2 separate regions of the Homo sapiens genome follow, and region 1 is linked to region 2. The links come from fine-mapping of genetic effects on gene expression. A gene starts in region 2. The other region holds a variant in brackets. All regions are shown on one strand. Distances are from middle to middle.

What was found. PIP is the estimated chance that this variant, and not a neighbour inherited with it, causes the effect. A credible set is the group of variants that fine-mapping cannot tell apart.
Region 1: its variant is the best candidate, but not a certain one, in a credible set for the expression of USP30 in whole blood (INTERVAL, PIP 0.78).

The regions. Positions count from the first base shown.
Region 1 is chr12:109,081,902-109,087,279 of GRCh38, reverse strand. It overlaps USP30 (ubiquitin specific peptidase 30), which reads right to left. Exons shown (of 13, transcript NM_032663.5): 9 at 5,261-5,347; 10 at 4,537-4,617; 11 at 4,218-4,437; 12 at 2,207-2,327; 13 at 1-1,613. The coding sequence ends at 1,349. Among named protein-coding and RNA genes, the nearest start is that of ALKBH2, 8.9 kb to the left of the region's middle. The variant A/G (reference allele first, on the strand shown) is at 2,673.
Region 2 is chr12:109,049,906-109,055,283 of GRCh38, reverse strand. It overlaps USP30 (ubiquitin specific peptidase 30), which reads right to left and starts at 2,708. Exons shown (of 13, transcript NM_032663.5): 1 at 2,523-2,708. The coding sequence starts at 2,605. It overlaps USP30-AS1 (USP30 antisense RNA 1), which reads left to right and starts at 1,319. Exons shown (of 2, transcript NR_038996.1): 1 at 1,319-1,598; 2 at 2,546-3,243. RefSeq lists enhancers at 1,312-1,681, 2,015-2,514.

The DNA.
Region 1 (5,378 bases), 32 kb before region 2:
TTTGGAAAGGTCTGATTCCAAATCTTACCTCTGATGAGTCGGTTTGAATTTGGTATCCATTTTTCTAAATTAAAAATATAGCTTAAAACATAGGTACTACTGTGTCATCAAAATTCCTTTGGCCCTGGGCTGCATTCAGAGACTTACCTGAAAAGGGAAGAAAGTGCTCAATATATACTTTTTGTATTAGGCTATTGGAAATGAATAAATTCAGAATATGGACCTAGAGCAACATGACAATACTAGATGCCAGCTGTAGTTATATGTTTTTTAAAAAGTCAAAAGCTGCTTTCTCCTTTTCGTGAAAAGGGCTGAACTTTGGTGGTCATCAAATCTAACCCTTCACTTCACAAATGAGGAAACTGAGGTTCAGAGAGACTGCAGCCCCATAGTCAGCCCTTCCTTCCTAAGCCAGGTGTCAACTCAGGGCAGGGATTATTTTTTTATACAGCCCCAAGCTCCCACCTGTAAACCTTAAGAGCTCTGCATGGGCAATAAATAAACAGATGAAAGTAACCGTCCACAGTGGATCCTTGTGTAAGAAAAAGTTTTCCACAGAGCAGAGGAATCAGGTGTTGCAAAGATCCAGCTCAGTTCTGGCTATTCACAGAGTTTTATAATACAGTGTAATTACATCTCAGTCCAATATACAAAAGATAAAAGCAACAAGTAAGCTCTTCACTTATAACTGACAAAGTAGTGAAAGAGTTTCCCCAGGGGGCAGATTTGGCAGATGAGCCTTTACTCCATAGAAAGAATTGAAAGATTAGAAAAGGCATAGAAAAAGGAAGGTGTTCTTTAGGCATCATTTACCTGTTCTCTTGCTATCCTTTGAGTAGCCTGGAAGGAATATTTCACAATGGACGTGCTACAAAAGCAATCGAAAGTGAAAGGCACTTTTTCTTCTAAATTGTTGCCTTTAATAATTTCATTAATTCTTGTCAACAATTTTTATGGGCCTGCTTATTAAAAATAAAAGATCTAAGTGGAAACGTTGATTAGACAAAGGTACCTCCCCTCTGAGAACACCTAACATTACAATATGAAAACGGTGGCTTCAAGAATCTGAGTTCTTTTAATTACCTGTATCAGATGAGTAAAAAGACACTCCGGACATAATGAATGCTTTCTTAACACAACAGAACCACCTACACACATGAACAGGACTGTTCAGGGAGCCTGGTTTGGTGTGAACTGGGGCTGGCTCCCAGGTGGAGCCTGCTCTTAGAACACACCAGAAGGCTGGAAGGCTCTAGTGGGGCCGCTTGCACACGCAACAGTACAGTTTTACTTTTTTCCTGGACAGTGCAGACAGTGCCATCAGCTCTAGCCTTGCAGGAGGGCACAGTCATTCTTCAGACTTGCACTCCTGGCTCTGGTGCTGCATCCTGGAAAGGACGCGCTCGTAGAACAGCAGGTAGGCGCTGGAGGACAGGACCTCCTGCAGGCTGGCCTTGCGGACAGTGTCATCGGAGACCCACAGCCACTGATTGCTAGTTGAGAGAGGGTTCCTGGCAGAAGGTGGGGACCGTCGGTAAGTGACAAAGTGTCCAGAGTGCATGTCTCCATGGTGGACGACAACTGCCATCAGCCGGAAGAGGTATGTGGAGGAGCTGAATGATACGAACACATGTCAGGGGTTTACAATTTTAACAAAAAGACTTTATAGGCAAAAACAAAAGAATGCTAATGTTAAATAGGGGATGAATACAATGGTAAGTCCATACCACCAAATGCTACACAACTATTAAAATACAGATCTGTATTTACTGGCATGGCAAGATGTACATTCTATGAGTATATGTATATTGTGTATATGTGGATGTTTGTATCAATGAGTGTATGTGTTTATGTACACTATATGTATGTGTGATGTACAACTTTATAGAGTGCATGACCCTAAGTGTTTAATTGGCTATCTCTAGATGGTATCCCAAGAAATTTTAAATTTTCTTTATATTTTATACATACACACATATATACACACATACATATGCATATGTAAATTTTATGTACTTTAAAAATTTTTAATTTAAAAGTTATTTCCATTTTGGACAAAAATAAATAGGAATGTGTAATCGTGAAACTTCACCTTAAAATGAAAAATAAACATCTATATTTTCCTTAATTCATTTCTGTGAAAAGCTAATTTTAGAAGCTAAGAGCAGTGGTAGCTCTAAGATGGGGCTTGTAAAGGGTGGCTCACCTGTAGTCGGGAACAACTGGGAGAGGGAAGGGCATCGGCGCTGACAGCGTTGGCAATAAAGATGGGGAGCAGGCGCCATTCATAAAAATCTGTGTTTTGGGGGCCCCTGGCTGATTCAGAACTGCAAGAGAAAAAGGCCCGAGTCAATGAAAATTAGCAGTGGCTCTGTAAACAAAACCTGGTTTTGATTACCTTGAAAGTTAACTCCCCATAATGCTACAAAGAAAAAAATCTATTTCATTTGGTATTATATAGATTCATAAAATAATCTGCCCTTTATCCTTAATCTCAAATAGGGATAATCTGTCTTAATCCCAAATAGGAAAAGTGTATCTAGCTCCAGCTTTACGGCTAGCCTGGGATCTTTGAGCTTCCTAGCCCTGTTTGCTAATGCCATGTATCAAAGTTAATCAGTAGCTAATTTACTGGCTTTTGACCTAAACCAAGGTTTCTCAACAGCAGCACC[A/G]TGATGGTTTTGGCTGGATCATTCTTTGTTGCGGGGGCTGTCCTGTGCATTAGAGGATGTTGAACAGCATCCCTGGCCTCTACCCACTAGACACCAGTAGCACCCCTCCCCCAGTAGTGATAACCAAAAATGTTACCAGACACTGCCCAATGTCCCTTGGGAGGCAAAACTCCTCCAAGTTGAGAACCACTGATCTAAGCATTCTATTTGCTTTAATTCTGTCAGCTTCTAAGGAATACCAACGTGTAATAGCATTCATACATGTTTATGGGTAGACAACATAATTAAGGCCATATTTACATGTCTTTTCCTTTCAAGTGTCATTTTTGGGGGCTGTTATGTACCAAGTAGTTTCCTGATGACATTTTTTGTGTGTGTTTTAGACAGGATCTTGCTCTGTTGCCCAGGCTGGAGCACAGTGGTGTGATCACAGCTCACTGCAGCCTCAAACATCTGGGTTCAGGCAATCCTCCCACCTCAATCTCCCAAAGTGCTGGGATTGCAGGTGTGAGCCACCACGAGTGGCCCTACTGCTGGCATCTTTAACCACAGCCAGCATGCTCTCAACATTAGTAAACCTGCACCCCAGCCCAGGAGATGGGGAAGCTGGGGTGCAGAGGTCTTTGATTTAAAACCAGGGCCAAGGACTGAACCAGAGTCTGTCCCCTACCTCATCTCTTTTCGATGTTAATCTAGTGACTTGATGAGAAAGAGGAAAACACAATCTCCCTGACATGATGAGGTGTCGGGCCATGCAACTGTGGTCATAAAAAGAACAAAAGGAGTAAGGGACCCTAAATAGGAAAGTATGGGGTGTGAGACAATCCTGACCTAACTGGGGGCAGCAGACAGGTGGTGAGTTCAGGCTGTGAGCCCTTCAAGTGAGTGGGTTTTCCTCATGTCTAACTCTAAAGAACTCAGTGTGTCACATGAGACACCTTTAGAAAATGGCCCAACATGGCATTCTAGGGCCAGTTCTCCTGTGTGGTGTTTGCCCTTGGACCAATCATTCAACCCCGTGGAGCCTCCATGTTCTTATCAGTAAGACCGGCGATAATAGCTACCCGGCTTAAATGAGACCTCAGCTGAGGGCAGTAATGGAATCAGATACATAATTCAGTACAGAAGGCATTTCAACCCCCAGAAGAGGCTCAGTGATCTTTAGCCAGGACATGTCCTCCCTACATTTCCTCTACTGACAGGAAATGACATGACCGAAAAAAGAAATTCACTGGAATGATGTGAGCCAATGATTATATCATTTAGCGGAAAAATTAGAAGGCAAAGCTGCAATTTTAAGCGTTTCTCTCTGTACTTTTTCATCTGTAATATGGTTTCAAAAACGATACATCTCACTGCTACATAATTTTAACCTCTTCTAAGAAATCTTCCCTCTTCCACCCCCAATCCTGCTGTTCTCAAGAGTTTAAGCACCATTGTACAAGCCTTGTGCTCCTGTCATAAGGGACCCAGAAGGTGGTGATGCCAAACTGCTTTTCTCTGTGCTGAAAATTCCTGCTGCATCGGCTCCTCGCGCGCACACACCTGGTGTGGGGGCTCCCGGCCCATCCTGCAGCTCCAGTGTAGGCCCTGGGTTCTTGTTCAGTTTAGGGTTGTGTTGACTAGGTTTATGTCCAAGGAGGTGGTACTTGTAAATGTCCATCATCAGGAACTCATTGAACTGCACGTGCTCATGCCGCTTCAGAGGCGTGCCGTGGCTGGACCAGCTCAGCCGCTGTAGGTGGATGCAGAGACACTGAGGGAGCTGCGGGTGGAAGAGAAATCGGGAGAACCGAGTTGTTTCAGGGGCAGGATACACGGAGTCCTCAAAACAAAGCCAACAGGGTGTGTAGTGTGGGCTCACCTTCCCTAGTTTTAACTGTTTAACAAAAGTGGTCCTCTGGTGTTCCACCTTTTCCCCGTTCAACGTTCCCTTGGCTTCAATCTGAAATAAAAGGAACATTTCTCTGCAGCAATGCCTAAAATAGGACAGCTTTGGAGTGCTGCAGACCACAGTGGTGTTATAGCGGCACACAATTGGCACTTGACTGCTACCTGCTGAAATGAACCCAGCTGCCCAGTTATTTGTGAATTGTTTTCCCTGATCCCTCTTAGTCATTAAATAACAGAAACAGTGGAGGGAAGAGAATGTGAAGAGCGAACACTGATGCTCTGACACTGGCATGTCATCTATTAATTGTTCTCTGTCTTCAAAAATTCTGTTCCATACAGTTCCTCTTGAGTCAGAGGGGAAAACTCAAGTTACTTAGGGGAGTCAGGCAGGTAGCACAGGTTAAAAGGAAGGGTGTAAAACAAATGGGATTGGAGGCAACTGCAGCAAACTGGAGAGGGCATTTCTCATCTCAGCGTGACAGTTTATTCTTTAAACACTGTGCATGAAACAAAACTCATCTGGGAAAGAGATTTGGTCCATGAGCTGCCAATGTCCAAACCAAATTAGGGAGAAGTAGAAGTGGCTGAAAAGACCCACTGGATACAGTCAGAAGAGCTCAGGGTCACTGGTGTGAGAGGCGCTACATCAGCACACACAGGCCAGCTGGCGATGACATTTGGGGTTCAATGCATACCTTTGTACAGTTGTCACACACAACATCCCGCACTGATTCTGATGAGATGAAGTGGTGAAGGCAGTGGTCCAGGGTCAATGGGTGACCCTACAGCATGAGAAGAAGAAAATTACTACAA
Region 2 (5,378 bases):
TAGACAGGGAAGGGGCACACATACAATGGTATAAAAGAGCTGAATATTTATAAAATTAAAGATTTCCTAACTTCAGGCTTGACTTGAACGCTGGTTATGCTTTTGCTACATATTAAGAAATTTCCCCAACAATTTAAAACATTGTTTTTATACAAAGTTATATATTTCTACAAAATAAGACAAACCATCTATGTGTATATAGCTATGTAATGTGTATCTGCATATATGTTACACATGCATACATACGTGTTTGTGTGTGTGTGTGTGTAATACATTATTATCCCAGTATTTGGATCATGTGAATATTGTTTTGATTTCAGTTCAGTAAACATTAACTTGGTGAAGAGTCACTGGTGGTAATATTGACCCTGTTTTATAATAATCAGCATTTCTTAGTATCATAGCTGATAGCTGAATTTCAGATAAATATTTGTTTTCCAAGACAGAGTCAACAGAATATGCACCAAACTTGGTTAAGAAAGTGGGATTACCTTATTCTGGTTCAATCCTGGCTTTGCTATTTCATTTGGCATCACTTCACCTTCTAAGCCTCAGTTTCCTCATCTGTACAATGGGGACAATCCATAAGACCTACCTCATAGGGCTGTTGTGAGGATTAAATAAGTGTGAATGCATACAGTACATAGTAAGAACTTAATAAATGTTAGCTGCTACAAATTAAGCATTACAATCTCAGGATCATTCATGAAAGCTATTCTTTCTTTTTTTCTTATTTTTATTTTTATTTTTTTTTGAGACAGTGTCTTGCTCTAGTTGCTCTAGTGCCCAGGCTGGAGTGCAGTGGTGCCATCTCAGCTCAACACAATCTTCACCTTCCGGGCTCAGGTGATCCTCCTGCCTCAGCCTCCCAAGTAGCTGGGACCACAGCTGCACACCACATGCCCAGGTAATTTTTAAATTTTTTTGTAGAGACAGGGTCTCACTACATTGCCCAGGCTGGTCTCGAACTCCTGAGCTCAAGAAATCCACCTGCCTCAGCCTTCCAAAGAGCTGGGATTACAGGTGTGAGCCACCATGCCCAGCTGGTGAAAGGTATTCTTGAAGTTTCTTAATACATCACTGTGCTTTTACACGATACGTGAGTTCACAAAAGTGCCTGGAAAGATTATAAAGGACTGTCATGGAAGTGCTAAGGTGCTTTACCAGTGCTTTAAAATCCCCTAATCAAACACTAATATTTAAGGGTACATACTCTCTGCCAGGCCCTGTGACAATCTTACCTCATTTTTAAAACAACCCCACAGATGCAGGTTCTACTATCACTTTCATTTTTATAGCAGAAGAAACTAAGAGCCCAACTTGGTCACAGTGAGTGAAGGAACATGGCTCTGAATCATGCCTGTCTGTCTCCCCAGGTCTGTGCTTAAAACCACGAAGTTCAAGATGGAAACTGAAGGGAAGAGTGTCAAGGGGATGGGAGAGAGGACTTGTCCATGACTTTGGCAGCATAAGGAAAAAATACCCAGGGACAAGTGGCGACTTTGGAAACTCCATTCCTCTGCAAAATGACATCACGAGGAGAGTGGTGGGGCCTGCGGATGAAAAGATCTGGCTTCTCCTCCCAACTCTGCTATGAGGTCAGCTATGGGGCCACACTTCCTATCTACGGAATGGGGGCACTGGACAGGATAAGTATCGAGGACTTTCAGCCCTGGGATAATAAGCTCTTTAAACCTGCTCCAGTTCCAGAGGAAGCCGACCTGAGCAACAGGTCTCAGTCATTTGGGGTCAGCAGTGGGGGAGGGGGTACTCAGTTCTGAAGCCTGGAGCCCTTGGGAGGGTGAATAAGAGGGAAATGGGGGCCCTGACAGGATTGGGGACCCAGGCAATCGAGGAGTCCTAACAAGAACGGAGGGCTTTAACAGGACCAAGCAACCTTAACAGGTTAAAGGGGCCCTGACCAATTTAGAGACCCTTGCAAAACAAGGGCCTTTACTCACACTAACAACATCAGGGACCCAGACAGAAGTGGCGATCCATATTAGACTAGAGGGCGGGCTAACAGGAATAGGGGGCGGTACTAACAAAACGCGGGGCTCGCAGGCCCGGGGCACTTATAGGACTAGAAGAACCGTGCCAAGGTTGGGGAACCCTGGCAGTCCAGAAACTGATATGATTGGGGGACCCAGAAGGACTGGGGGTATACTAGAAGGATTGAGGGGTCTTGGCAGGCCTAGGAGGCACTGAAAGGACTGAGGGCACTGACAGAATTAGGGGCCTTGACAAGACTGGAGTGCCCCGGGTGTCCTGGGAACAATGACAGGAGGGGGAGGGACTGACAGACCTGGGGAGTGCAGACAGAATTGGTGTTGCCGAAGGACTGGAGCCCGTCAGTCCTCCCACCTACGGGCCCAGGCCTCCAACCCTAAAGGACGCAGAACCTTCCAGAATGCCCGCGCGGGCCCTGGAGACCCCAACTAGGGCATGAAAAAGCCGTCACGGGCCCAAGCTGGGGACCCTGGTCCCGGCCTCTTCGGCAGCCCCGCCCCCCAAAATCTCACCTGACGGCCGCCCCGGTCCGCAGGAAGCGCTGGATGGCCCTGTCGGCCGCGGTCATCGCCGCCTCGGCCCGGGAGCTCAGCATTGCAGCCGCACCGGAGGCCTGAAACCGTCTCCTCCGCTACCGCCGCCGCCGCCGCCGGACCGAGGGATACGACGGTTCCCGAGACAGCGGAACCTGCGGCCGCAGTCCCAGCACCTCGGGGGAACGTAGACCGCAGGACAGCTCCCAGGGGGACCGGAAGTAGCTGCCCCCGGAGAGCAATAGCTGACGGACCACGTCCTTTCTTTCTTTTCCCTTAGCAACAGGCCCCGGCGTCGGTTGCTACGCTGGGCTCAGTTGCCTGGGGCTGCTTGGTTTTCAGATTTGCTTAGGCTCCATTCATAAATACAGATGGCACACTTCTAGGATGGACCCTGGGTCATGATTTGAATTTTTCGATGTGGGGAAGGGAGGCCAACAGCCGAAAGTCGGGTCAGGCCTCTGCTATAATTAGTTATTATTGTGGCCAGAGTGGAAATAGGTCGCAGAGGAAGGAACTTTAATGAGCATGAGGCCCATCTCTGACGATATCAGTAGAGAAATCAACGTCTTTAATAGCCAACAAACTTATTGTTTACTTGGGTGCCAGGTATAGAGCTAAGTATGTTACATTCATTATTTACATTTAATATTCACACCAACTCTAACATTACCCACATTTTACATCCCAGGGAACCCAGGAAATTTGAAGAAATAGTAAGTTTTTTGACGCAGCTTGTAAGTGGTGAAACAGAGATTGGCAGTTCGGTCTGTCTGTCTCCAGAATGGCACTCTCCAACAGAAATATACAGGAGCCACATAGGTAATTTTACATTTTCCAGTAGCCACATTAAAGTGAAAAGCAGGAGGTAGGCCAGACGCCGTGGCTCACGCCTGTAATCCCAGCACTTTGGGAGAACGAGGCTGGTGGATCACCTGAGGTCAAGAGTTCGAGACCAGCTTGGCCAACATGGTGAAACCCCATCTCTACTAAAAATACAAAAATTAGCCGGGCGTGGTGGCAGGCTCCTGTAATTCCAGCTACTCAGGAGGCTGAGGCAGGAGAATTGCTTGAACCGTGGTGGTGGAGGTTGCACTGAGCCAAGATCATGCCACTGCATTCCAGCCTGGGTGACAGAACCAGACTCCATCTCAAAAAAAAAAAAAAAGAGGTCAGGTGCGATGGCTCATACTTGTAATCCCAGCACTTTGGGAGGCCGGGGGGTGGGGGTGGGGGGCACGGATTGCTTGAGGTCAGGAGTTCGAGACCAGCATGGCCAATATGGTGAAACCCCGTCTCTACTAAAAAATACAAAAATCAGCCAGGTGTGGTGGCGCGTGCCTGTAATCCCAGCTACTCGGGAGGCTGAGGCGGGAGAATCGCTAGAACCTGGGAGGCGGAGGCTGCAGTGAGCTGAGATCACACCACTGCACTCCAGCCTGGGCAACAGAGAGAGATTCAGCATCAAAAAAAAAAAAAAAAAAAAAAAAAGCAAGAGGTAAAATTAATTTTAACCATATTTTTTCCTTGACCCAATATGTTCAAAATATTGGGGCAGGTGCAGTGGCTTATGCCTATAATCCCAGCACTTTGGGAGGCCAGGTGAGAGGATGGCTTCAGGCCCAGAGTCCAAGGCCACCTGGGCAACATAGCAAGAACCCATGGCTACCGAAAAACAAAGAAAAGAAAAACAAAATATGTCATTTCTATGTGAAAATTATTGATGAGATAATTTACATTCTTTTTTTTTTGAGATGGAGTCTTGCTCTGCCGCCCAGGCTGCAGTGCAATGGCACGATCTCGCCTCTCAGGTTCAAGCGATTATCCTGCCTCAGCCTCCTGAGTAGCTGGGATTACAGGTGCACACCACCACGCCCGGCTAATTTTTTTGTATTTTTAGTAGAGACGGGGTTTCACCATGTTGGTCAGGCTGCTTGAACTCCTGACCTCGTGATCCATCCGCCTCGGGCTCCCAAAGTGTTGGGATTACAGGTGTGAGCCACCGCGCCCGGCCCATTATTTTTTTGTTTTTTGGTACTAAGTACCTCTCAGTTTGGAGTACCCACTTTTCATGTGCTCAATAGCCCCAAGTGGCCAGCAGCTACCGTATTGGACAGCACAGTTTATAAAGCATTAGAGCCAGCAAGATTTTTCCCTCCCTTTCAATCGCTTTCTCCGACTCCAGACTGAGTAATTGCATTCATGCTGGGGGTGGTGTCGCATACCTGTAGCCCCAACTACAGAAACAAAACAAAAGAAATCAATGCATTAGATCAGTAGTTCTCAAAGTTTTTGTTCTCCGGATCTCTTTGTACGCTTAAAAAGGATTGAGGGATTTTGTTTATATCTAACTGTACTCTGTTAGAAATTAAAATTGAGAATTTTTGTTTCCTTAAAATTGAGGTATATAGGTATATCTTGTTTTTTTGTTGTTGTTGTTTGTTTTTGAGATGGAGGCTCGCTCTGTGGCCCAGGCTGGAGTGCAGTGGCGTGATCTCAGCTCACTGCAAGCTCCGCCTCCCGGGTTCAAGTGATTCTCCTGTCTCAGCCTCCCGAGTAGCTGGGACTACAGGCTCCCGCCACCACGCCCAGTTAATTTTTGTATTTTTAGTAGAGACAGGGTTTCACCATATTGGCCAGGCTGCTCTTGAACTCCTGACCTTGTGATCCACCCACCTTGGCCTCCCAAAGTTCTGGGATTACAGGTGTGAGCCACCGTGCCCCGCCCGGCATATCTTGTTTTATTGCACTTCACTTTATTGTGCTTCGAAGATACTGCATTTTTACAAGTTCAAGGTTTGTGGCTACCTGACTACAGCAAGTCTATTGGCACCA